3 linked regions of the Homo sapiens genome follow. The protein of the gene in region 3 interacts with the protein of the main gene of each other region in a pairwise test. Each region holds a gene or a part of one and is shown on either strand. Other genes may lie near its edges. The genes, in order: UQCC2, CCDC183 and NRDE2.

The links.
Region 1: the proteins of NRDE2 (region 3) and UQCC2 interact in binary tests that used the Homo sapiens proteins (3 or more experiments, as listed by UniProt).
Region 2: the proteins of NRDE2 (region 3) and CCDC183 interact in a two-hybrid assay, tested with the Homo sapiens proteins (one large-scale study listed by BioGRID).

Annotation. Positions count from the first base shown.
Region 1 is NC_000006.12:33,698,983-33,701,852, forward strand, and holds part of UQCC2 (ubiquinol-cytochrome c reductase complex assembly factor 2), read right to left. Parts: intron 2,439-2,870; coding exon 2,364-2,438; intron 1,532-2,363; coding exon 1,462-1,531; intron 1-1,461.
Region 2 is NC_000009.12:136,794,862-136,799,181, reverse strand, and holds the start of CCDC183 (coiled-coil domain-containing protein 183), read right to left. Parts: upstream 2,845-4,320; 5' UTR 2,785-2,844; coding exon 2,715-2,784; intron 81-2,714; coding exon 1-80.
Region 3 is NC_000014.9:90,304,296-90,307,947, forward strand, and holds part of NRDE2 (nuclear exosome regulator NRDE2), read right to left. Parts: intron 88-3,652; coding exon 1-87. UniProt on the Homo sapiens protein: Protein of the nuclear speckles that regulates RNA degradation and export from the nucleus through its interaction with MTREX an essential factor directing various RNAs to exosomal degradation.

The sequences.
Region 1 (2,870 bases), on a different chromosome or scaffold from region 3:
AAAAAAGGTAACAGAAAAAAGCCCCTGCTCTGGAGCTTTTCCAGAAGTCCATGTTTCCAGTGTCCAGGTGGACACTGAGGCCTCCCTTAGGCGCTTTCCATGACCCCAATCCCAGGGTGGACACACACATAACCCAGAACACAGCACATTTCAGACTTGCCAGGCCCTCAAAGCCTCTCACTACAAGGTGCTGCAGGTCTTTTCTTGTCCTGTCAGAGGAAACATTTGGTAAGCTTACGCCACACAATTTGCAACAAAAATATGAGGCTTGCTGTGAAAACAAATTCTCAGCAAATTTCCTGAACTAAACTCGCTGCCAGAACAAGCTGCAGCGCGGACCAATGGCGGGACTATCTCCCAGCCTTCGTTGCTGCCTGTTTTCCACTTGCAGAGGCTGCCCTGAGGTGAACAAAACAGAGGGCAGAGGCAGGGCCTCTGGAACTTACTTCCGCCCTCACTTCAAGTTCAAACTTTGCTCAAACTGTCCAGGGCCCTCACAATAATGTGCATCAATGCTGCTAATTACACGGACCCAGGGATATAGGAGTAAATTTACACATTAAAAAAAATTGCCAATAAAGTGATTCTGCCTGGCCAAAATATCTTCACCACAGTTTCCCAGAGAGTACTGGAATAAAAATAGGGTTAGAGTTGACATGTAATAGCAGGTGACACCACCAGGTTTTAATCTCAGAAGAGAGTTTTCTAGAAGCCCAAATCCTCAAAACTTAAGTTGCTGAAGGCTGCCAGAAGAAGAGGAAAGACACATTTCTAGAATACCAGAAGGAAATGTGTCAGGGCCATGCCCTCCCAGAAAAGGTTAACCTATTTTTGTATATAATATACTTGGCAACAAAAATAGTAATTTTCCAGTACCTGCCTACTTCATCCCTGGCTCTCCGGCCCCCCTCCTTAGGGACAATGGAGATAGGGAAGTAAGGAAAGGACGGGCTTGGCAGGATGTTTCCTTTCTTGATAATCAGAGTCTATCAATGACTCTAAAACATACCTAGTTAAACTCATATCTAACCCACAGACCACGTCCCCTGGGTCACATAACTCTTAGGCGGATATCCCCAAACACGTTTATTGAATGGTTTTTTGTTTTAATTAAAACCTTCATTGTTTATAAAGCCCTCTTAAGACCATAAAAATAAAATTATTTTCCTTCCATCCTGATTTCAACTACTTCCATTTGGCAAATAGGTATTCCTCTGTTCCCTGATGCCCAGCCTTGAATTTAAAAGCCCTAAAGATAGATTTTCTTTTTTAAATAACGCCTTTGACCTTCTCCACAGTATATGGTCAAAATGCATGCGCCCTGTAGCTTCAGAATTTCCTCTGGGCTGTTCTACAAGACTTTCCATCAAGCAAAACTGTCTTCTTAGACAATTCCCCTTGGCCACTCAAACTCAGAATCATTTGCAAACCAATGAGAAAAGGCAGCTGTGCTTTCATTACCTGTGGACAGGATCAGCTTGTACTCTTCCAACGACAGGCCACTGAAGCTGGTGTCTCTGGGGCGAGGGTACTGGTCACCGGGGCAGAAAGGAAGTGAAGGGAGGGGAGAGATCAGCACACAAGCCCTGCTCTCTAACTGCATTTCACCTAGGCCCTGGGCAACCAGAGGCCAGGAGGCCTAGCAAGGAGAAGAGCAGCGCCACCTCGAGGTCAAGACTTGGCCTCGCAAGAACCAGTACAGTCTCCAGGAGGCAGCTCCAACTATAATGTACCCGTGAGTCCTCCCTGGAAAACGCAGGTATGGGTGGGGCCCCTGATTCTGCATTTCTAACCAGTTCCCAGGTGATGCCCATGCTGCTGCTCATGGATCACATGTTAGCAGGGAGGATTTAGAAAAAATCAATTTTCCACATAGGCATATGGCCACAAATGTTTGTGGAGTTAATGAGCATATTTTTCAAGTATGGGAAAAACCACTCTAAATGGAATTTGACAGTAATCATGTTGGGCCCAGCTCCGTAAAAGGAGGGCACTTTCCCAATCATCCCATCTTTATCACCAGAATGTGGGGAGGTGTCAGTTCCGTCAGAGTGGATGGGAAAATAGGTATAAATCCAATGGCTGTCAGACATTCCCAGGAGCACACACTGGCATATCAAATACATGGCTTCTATTCATAATTGGTTTTGTTTCTTCCCTATATTCACAATTTTAAATAGCTTTTATTTAGGTGGCCTAAAAGCCTCTACCAGGCACCTCTGTTGGCTTGGTTGAAATTACTGGTTTCATTTGAACGCAGCAAAGCCAAGTCTTTACAAAACATTACCTAATCAGATTTTCACTCATTCTTATTAGTTGTCCCGTCAGAAAGCTGGGTATATAAAAGACTGTGGCCCACTCACCTTGTGTTTGTAGTAGTTTGAATGGAGTCGCGCTAAGCTCTCGTACATCTGATCACAGGCCTCAGGCTCTGCAACCTGAAAAGCAAAGAATCCCAAAGGAGGTGAGCAAAGGAGTCCTGCCTCCCACAGTGTCTGTACCTTGAGGAAAGACCATACTTAATAAAGCGTTCACATGAAGCAGGCCTGCAGCTAGCACTGGCTTCTCCACTCTGCGGGAAGCAAACCTGGACTACAGCTCTGCTATTAGAAACTACTTTTTGGAGGCATAGCTCTGCCTCATCAACTCCCCAACCTACAGAAAAATCAGATCAATTAATCAGCAAACAAGCATTTGTTGAGCATCTGTGACTTGTGAGCCACGACACCAGCTGCAGTGGGAGATGCCACAATAGAAATGTAAGGTTGGAAAGGCGTGCCTAACAAAGGGGGTGCTGGGCAGAGTGGGCTACAGGGACTCAGTGGGGGAGTCCCCGCATGCTCAAGTGGTCAGTGCATGATGGAAGTGAG
Region 2 (4,320 bases), on a different chromosome or scaffold from region 3:
GCTGCGCAGGAGGGCCAGCGTGGCCTTGTTCTGGTCCATATTCTCTTTCACCCCTTGGATCTGGAGTGCCCGACACTGCTCTGTGGGCAGGTGGAGGGGACACAGTGGCTAGGATTGGGCCAAGGGCCTGGCCTGGAATCCCCTGGGGGAGGCTTGCATCAGGGAGGCCCCAGGCCCCAGGGTCCAGGGGGATGCCCCCTCCATGGCCAAGATCCCTCCTCCCGCCCTGTCCTGGGGGACACCGCTCCACTGCCCAGCAGCAGCTGTCTGAAGGGCTCTCAGTGGACAGGTGCGGGGAGGTGGACAGGTGGGGAGGGTGAGGCAAAGGAGAGGGATGGCAGGGTCCTGTGGTCCCGTCCAGATTTGCTGCCCATGGAAGCAGGTGGGTGTTTTCCTGTCCATTCTGGCTTTGGGGCCCGTGTTGCTCTTATGCTCACGTCTCCTTGAAGCCCCTCTCTCTGATTTAGTCCCTCCATGCAGGTCCCTTTGATCCCTTCTCCCAGCTCTGTCAGGGAGTGGGCAGTAGGGGGGTCTGTTTTCCCCTCCATGTCCTGGATTGTCCCTGTATTAAAACTAAAAGTCCTAGGCCAGGAGCGGTGGCTCACACCTGTAATCCCAGCACTTTGGGAGGCCGAAGTGGGCGGATCACCTGTGGTCAGGAGTTCGAGACCAGCCTGGCCAACATGGTGAAACCCCATCTCTACTAAAAATACAAAACTAGCTGGGTGTGGTGGTGTGTGCCTGTAGTCCCAGCTACTCAGGAGGCTGAGGCAGAATTGTTTGAACCCAGGAGGTGGAGGTTGCAGTGAGCTGAGATTGCACCACTGCACTCCACCTGGACGACAGAATGAGACTCTGTCTCAAAAAAATAAATAAGCTAGGCGCCGGTGGCTCATGCCTGTAATCCCAGCACTTTGGGAGGCCGAGGCGGATGGATCACCTGAGGTCAGGAGTTTGAGACCAGCCTGGCCAAGATGGGTAAACCCCGTCTCTACTAAAAATACAAAAATTAGCTGGGCGTGGTGGTGGGCACCTGTAATCCCAGCTACTCGGGAGGCTGAGGCAGGAGAATCACTTGAACCCGGGAGGTGGAGGTTGCAGTGTGCTGAGATTGCACCATTGCACTCCAGCCTGGGTGACAGAGCGAGACTGCGTCTCAAAATAAATAAATAAATAAAAATACAAATACGAAAATTAGCTGAGTGTGGTGGCGTACACCTGATGTCCCAACTAATCAAGAGGCTGAGCCAGGAGAATCGCTCGAACCCGGGAGGTGGAGGTTGCAGTGAGCCGAGATCATGCCACTGCACTCGAGCCTGCGTGACAGAGCGAGACTCTGTCTCCAAACAAACATCCCCTAAAAGTGAAGGGGGCCTGCCCCTCCACACCTGCGGGTATTTCTCGTCAGGTGGGATGAAGACTGAGAAAAGAAATAAGACACAGAGGCTGGGCATGGTGGCTCACGCCTGTAATCCCAGCACTTTGGGAGGCTGATGCGGGCAGATCACGAGGTCAGGTGATCGAGACCATCCTGGCTAACACGGTGAAACCGCATCTCTACTAAAAATACAAAAAATTAGCCGGGCATGGTGGTGGGTGCCTGTAGTCCCAGCTACTTGGGAGGCTGAGGCAGGAGAATGACGTGAACCCAGGAGGTGGAGCTTGCAGTGAGCCGAGATCGCGCCACTGCACTGCCGTCTGGGCAACAGAGCAAGACTCCATCTCATAAAAAAAAAAAAAAAAGACACAAAGTATAGAGAAAGAACAGTGGGCCCAGGGGACTGGCACACTCAGCATGCGAGGACCTGCACCAGCCCTGGTCTCTGAGTTCCCTCAGTATTTACTGATCATTATTTTTACTATCTTGGTGAGGGGAGTGTAGCAGGGCAACAGGTGGTGAGAACGTCAGCAGGGAAACATGTGAGCAAAGGAATCTTTATCATGAATAAGTTCAAGGAAAGGTACTATGCCCAGATGTGCACGTAGGCCAGATTTGTTTCACGTTACACAAACATCTCAGTGTAGCAAAGAGTAACAGAGCAGTATTGCTGCCAGCATATCTTGCCTCTAGCCACAGAGCGGTTTTCTCCTATCTTAGAATAGAACGAATGGGAATGGTCGGCTTTACACTGAGACATTCCATTCCCAGGGACGAGCAGGAGACAGATGCCTTCCTCTTATCTCAACTGCAAAGAGGCCTCCCTCTTTCACTACTCCTCAGCACAGACCCTTTACTGGTGTCGGGCTGGGGGATGGTAAGATCTTTCCTTTCCCACGAGGCCATATCTCAGGCTGTCTCAGTGGGGGGAAACCTTGGACAATTCCCAGGCTTTCCTGGGCAGAGGTCCCTGCGGCTTTCTGCAGTGCACTGTGTCCCTGGTTAATCAAGAATGGAGGATGGGGATGACTTTTACCAAGCATACTGCCTGCAAACACATTGTTAACAAAGCACATCCTGCACGGCCCTAAATGCATTAATCTTTGATTCAATACAGCACATGTTTCTGTGAGCACAGAGTTGGGGCTAAAGTTACAGGTTAATAGCATCTCAAAGCAGAAACAATTTTTCTTAGTACAGATCAAAATGGAGTTTCTTATGTCTTCCTTTTCTACATAGACAGTAACAATCTGATCTCTCTTTTCCCCACAAAAAGTTGTGCACCCAGAAACCCCCAGACGGGAAAGGGAGACTGGTCACGGCGGTGCAGGCTCACCCTGGAGCTGAGTGATGGTCTTCAGCTCCTGGGTCTGCTCTTCCACATCTGTCTCACTGTGCCTCCTCATGGCTGCTCTCAGGCCCCCCAAGGGACCCTGTGTACCTCAAAGCCTCCCTGGGCTCAGCTTGCTCAGAGCCGCCACTCAGATTGTCCCCAGAACCTCAGCCCATTATGATGAGAGCCAGGATTCTCAGTGCCTGGGCAACCCTGGAATTGCAGGGCCTCCTGCCTCACTCTGCCCCCAGCCACCTTGGGGTGGCCTCCAGACATGTGTCCTAATTGAAATGAGTCTCCTGGCAGCTGCTCGAGGCTTAGGAGCTCTGCCGGGCGGATGTGCTTTCTTTGAGGGGGAGGTTTGTGATGGGTCTGCAGCACCGGCAGCTCACACCTGCACTGGGTTCCCTCCCTGGCCCCTCCCATGCCCCAAGCCATCCTCCACAAAGCAGCAGGCCGAGCCTCCTAAAACGATTCTGATACTATTCTGATACTGCCTTACGGGACCTCCCTCTGCACCCCCCACCCCCAGCCCCAAGTCCAAACTCCATGCACTGGGTAACCTGGCTCTTGGGACACCCCCACCTTATCTCTTCTGACTTCTGTCCCTGACCTCTCTGTGCTGTCTGGAGCCCACCCTGCTTCACCCCCACTTTCCTTTGGGAATTACTGGGTCTTGGGTTCATGTGTCACTCCAGAAAGGGTATGTTCTCCATCTCTGCACCCCCTCCACCCTTCCCTTAGAGGGGAGTACCTGGAGCACCAGGCAGCCTGGAACTCTGTGGGGTATGCACGAGATGGGGTACACACGAGATGGGGTACTTTTTCCCAGCCTTGCCTTAGTAGGCTCAGGCGGCCATAACAAGGTGCCACTGGCCAGGTGTGGAGGCTCACGCCTGTAATCCCAGCACTTTGGGAGGCTGAGGTGGGTGGGTCACCTGAGGTCAGGAGTTCAAGACCAGTCTGGTCAACATGGTGAAACCCCGTTTCTACTAAAAATACAAAAATTAGCCCAGTGTGGTGGTGGGCGCCTGTCCCAGCTACTTGGGAAGCCGAGGCAGGAGAATTGCTTGAATCCAGGAGGTGGAGGTTGCAGTGAGCTGAGATCGCGTCACTGCACTCCAGCCTGCGTGACAGAGTAAGACTCCATCTCAAAAAAACAAAAAACAAAAAAACAAAAAAACAAGGCGCCACCGACTGGGGGATGTGAACAGCAGCCTGGAGGCTGGGGGCTGAGATCACGGGTCAGCAGGGCTGGTGTCTCCTGAGGCCCCTCTCCTTGGCTTGCAGATGCTGTCTTCTCTGTGTCCTCACGTGGCCGTCCCTCTGTGTGTCTGTGTCCTAATTTCCTCTTCTTATGAGGACACCCCAATGACCTCATTTTACCTTAATGACCTCTGGAAAGCCCCTGTCTTCAAATACAGAGACATGCAGAGGTCCTGGGGGACAGAAATTTGGGGGGACCCAAGCCAGCCCGACAATGGCCTTTGCCCATGTGCTGTCACATAGATCCCTTCCCTTTCTGGTCACTGTTTTTGGAAAGCCAGTCCAGGCAAACTCCAGGTTCTCCCTTCTCTCCCTCCCACCCAGGCCTCACCCTCAGGGTGCT
Region 3 (3,652 bases):
TGCTTCTTCTCTGTGGAAGTCCCTTCCCAAGATATGCACTGCTTCTTAGGGTTAATGCCAAGGCAGGAGTCTCCTTTCCTCTTGTATCTGATATTAGAAAAAGAAAAAAAGTTACTGAGGGAATACGTGTACTACCTCTGAATGACTAAAGGCGCATTAGACCTAAACTCTCGTTATGCAGGTTCACTGCATATAACCAAATTCACCTCACCTTCAGATTGTTTCTATTTGGAGATACACAAGGACTAGTAATTAACTTTCTTTCTGCCTGGCTTGACTTCTTCCTATAACACTTCAACTCTTCTTTAACATCTCATGAATTTAAGATCATGCCTGTCTTCTAGATCTTAGTAATTTCTATTTTCCTGGAGCCTTGTAAAGAACTGTCACACACATTATGTCATTTGATCATCACAGCCATATGTGACAGGCAAGGCAAAAATTATCATCCCTTCTCTTAACTGTTCCTAAATAAGGACACTGAGGCCTGGGAACCTGGATCATCTGTTTCCTAGACCAGTCCTGTTTTCTCAATATTTTCCTGTGTCCCTACTTAAGAAGATAACATATAGGCCTAAGATTCTTTTTTTAATCCTGAAACAAAGTATGTCAAATGAAATTACATTTGGTTATTTTCTACTCTAGAGGAAAAGAGGTTGGGTTCTAAAACGCTTTTATGGAACATGTAGGCGTCCCCAGAGTTAACAAACACATGACTACTGAATATTTGCACAGGCAAAAGCTAAGGAAAATTGTACATTTTTCTGTATGTATGTTAGCAAACAATTCAATTTTAAAAACGGGCAAAAGATCTGAACTGAAATTCCACAAAAGAAGACATGAATAGCCAATAAGCACATAAAAAAAAAAACAACTCAACATCCTTAGTCAACAAGGACATGCAAATTAAAACCACAATGAGGTACCCCACACACCAACTAGAACAGTGTTAATATTTAAAAGGCTGACAACACCAAATGTTGGTGAGTAACCTGTGGAGTAACCAGGACTCTCATCCGCTGTCAGCGGGAATGTAAACTGGTATAATCACTTTGGGAAAAGATCTGGCTGTTTCTTAAAAAATTCAACACAGACCTAACCTATGACCCAGCAATTCTATTCCTACATATTTACCCAAGAAAAAGGAAAGCACATGTCTACACAAAGACATGAGCACAAATGCTCTCGGCAGCTTTATTCCTAACAGCCAAACACTGAAAGAGTCCACGTGTCCATCAATAGAAGATGGATAAGTAAACAGAGGTACAGCCATACAATGGAATACTACCAGCAGTAAAAAGGAGCTACTGGTAAGTGCCTTATGGACGGATGATCTCAAAAACATTACACTGAGTGAAAGAAGCCAGAAGCCAGATACAAAAGAGTACACACTGTATAATTCCACTTACATGCATTTTAGAACAGGTAAAAACGAATTGAGGGTGGAAACAAGTAAGAACGGTGATTGCCTCTGGGAGAATGGGGTACAGACTTACCAGAAAAGAGCACGAGGAAACTTCTGGCGGTCAGAGTAATATTTCACATTTTAACAGAGGTTCGGGTGAGAATGAAGCTTTGTGCATTACATTGCATGTAAATTTTCAATTAAAGGAATAAAACTAAATAAATATTGACCTCTAGTTAATAATACACATGCTGAAGTATTTAGGGGGTTGTTTATTGATCTGCAGTTTACTTTGAAATGCATCAAAAAAATAGGATGGGCTGATGGATGGACACATATGACAAAACAAGTACAATACAAACTTAATGGATACAAAGTTAATGGTAGATGTAGGGGGCAGTTATACGAGCATTCACTGTAAAAATCTTTCAACTTTTGCTGTATATTAAAATTTTTTCCTAATAAAACCGGAAATGCCGTGGGGAGAAAAAGGCAGGGGAGAACTGCCTTCATCTTCTGTCAGCTCCCAGGAAGCTCCGCTCCACTTCACCTTGGTTCAGGGCCGGGCTCTCTCCCTCACCTCTGTGGCTTCTCTGCGGTCAACAGGTCCCCTCTCTAAGTGCCTCTGCCCTCCTCACTGACCAAACACAGCAAATTCCACTGTAGGGGACTATTTTCTCACACAGACATAAATATTCTCTCTCAAACCTTTTATCTAGCCTCCCTCCCAATTCTTTCAGACTATCTCATGACAGTCTCTTGCCATTCCATTTATGAGTCAAAAACAACCTTAACAAAGGTGTGATGAGATAAAATAGCACTAATGTAGGCCGGGTGTGGTGGCTTATGCCTGTAATCCCAGCACTTTGGGAGGCTGAGGCGGGTGGATCACCAGAGGTCGGGAGTTTGAGATCGGTCTGGCTAACATGGTGAAACCCCGTCTCTACTAACTATACAAAATTAGCTGGGCGTGGTGGCACACGACTGTAATCCCAGCTACTTGGGAGGCTGAGGCAGGAGAATCACTTGAACCCAGGAGGCAGAGGTTGCAGTGAGCCGGGCTCAAGCCACTGCTCTCCAGCCTGGGCAACAGAGTGAGACTTGGTCTCAAAAAAAAAAAAAATAGCACTAATGTAGTTCTAAACAAGGCTGCCATTCCCTAAGGAACAAACTTTAAGTTAAAAAGCTAGTTTTGTTCTCCTTTATCCTCTTTTAATAGTATTGATTCCTCATTAGTCTCACAAAAAATATACAGTATTTTAGATATTCATAAAATCTCTTGAAAAATGTTTACTGTTTCCTGACTTTAAACTAACAGCTGCATTTTTATAACAAATTAGATGAAAATGATAAGGGAAGGGGAAAAATGTTACTGGCCTATATTACTATCTACTTTCAGACACTATATGTGTTTCAGTATGTATATATATGTGTGTGCACATACATCCTTTTTCAAAATAGTTGATATCACATAGTTTCAGGCCTGCCTTCCTACTTTAAAGCATCTCCTCATACCATTAATCTTAGAAAATATAATTTGTATTGACTTCAAACTGTTCCATTGTATGGATGTGCCATAATTTATTTAACCATTTCCCAATCATTAGACATTTAGGTTATATCCAATTTATCACTTAGCATGAGATCTTAATAATTATACAGGACCTAGGCTATAATTTAACACAATGTTTCCCTAAATGAAGGCACTTTTGCTATAAAATCCTTATCAAATAATCAACTAACGGCCAGGCGTGGTGGCTCACATCTGTAATCCCAGCACTTTGAGAGGCCGAGGTGGGTGGATCAATTAAGGCCAGGAATTTGACACCAGCCTGGCCAACATGGTGAAACCCCATCTCTACTAAAAATACAAAATTTAGCCAGGCTGCTCTTGAACTCCTGACCTCAAGCGATCCGCCCGCCTCAGCACTTTGGGAGGCCAAGGTGGGCGGATCACAAGGTCAGGAGATTGAGACCATACTGGCTAACACGGTGAAACCCCATCTCTACTAAAAATACAGGGATTACAGGTGTGAGCCACTGCACCCAACTACAGAAAAATTTGTAGGGTTTCCCTCTGTTACCCAGGATGCAATGATGCAATATAGCTCACTGCAGTTATGCAATATAGCTCACTGCAGCCTCAAAATCCTTCAGCAGTCCTCCCACTTCAGCCTCCTGAATAGCTGGGACTTCAGGCACATGCCACCACACTCAGCTTATTTTTTGTAGAGATGCAGCCTCACT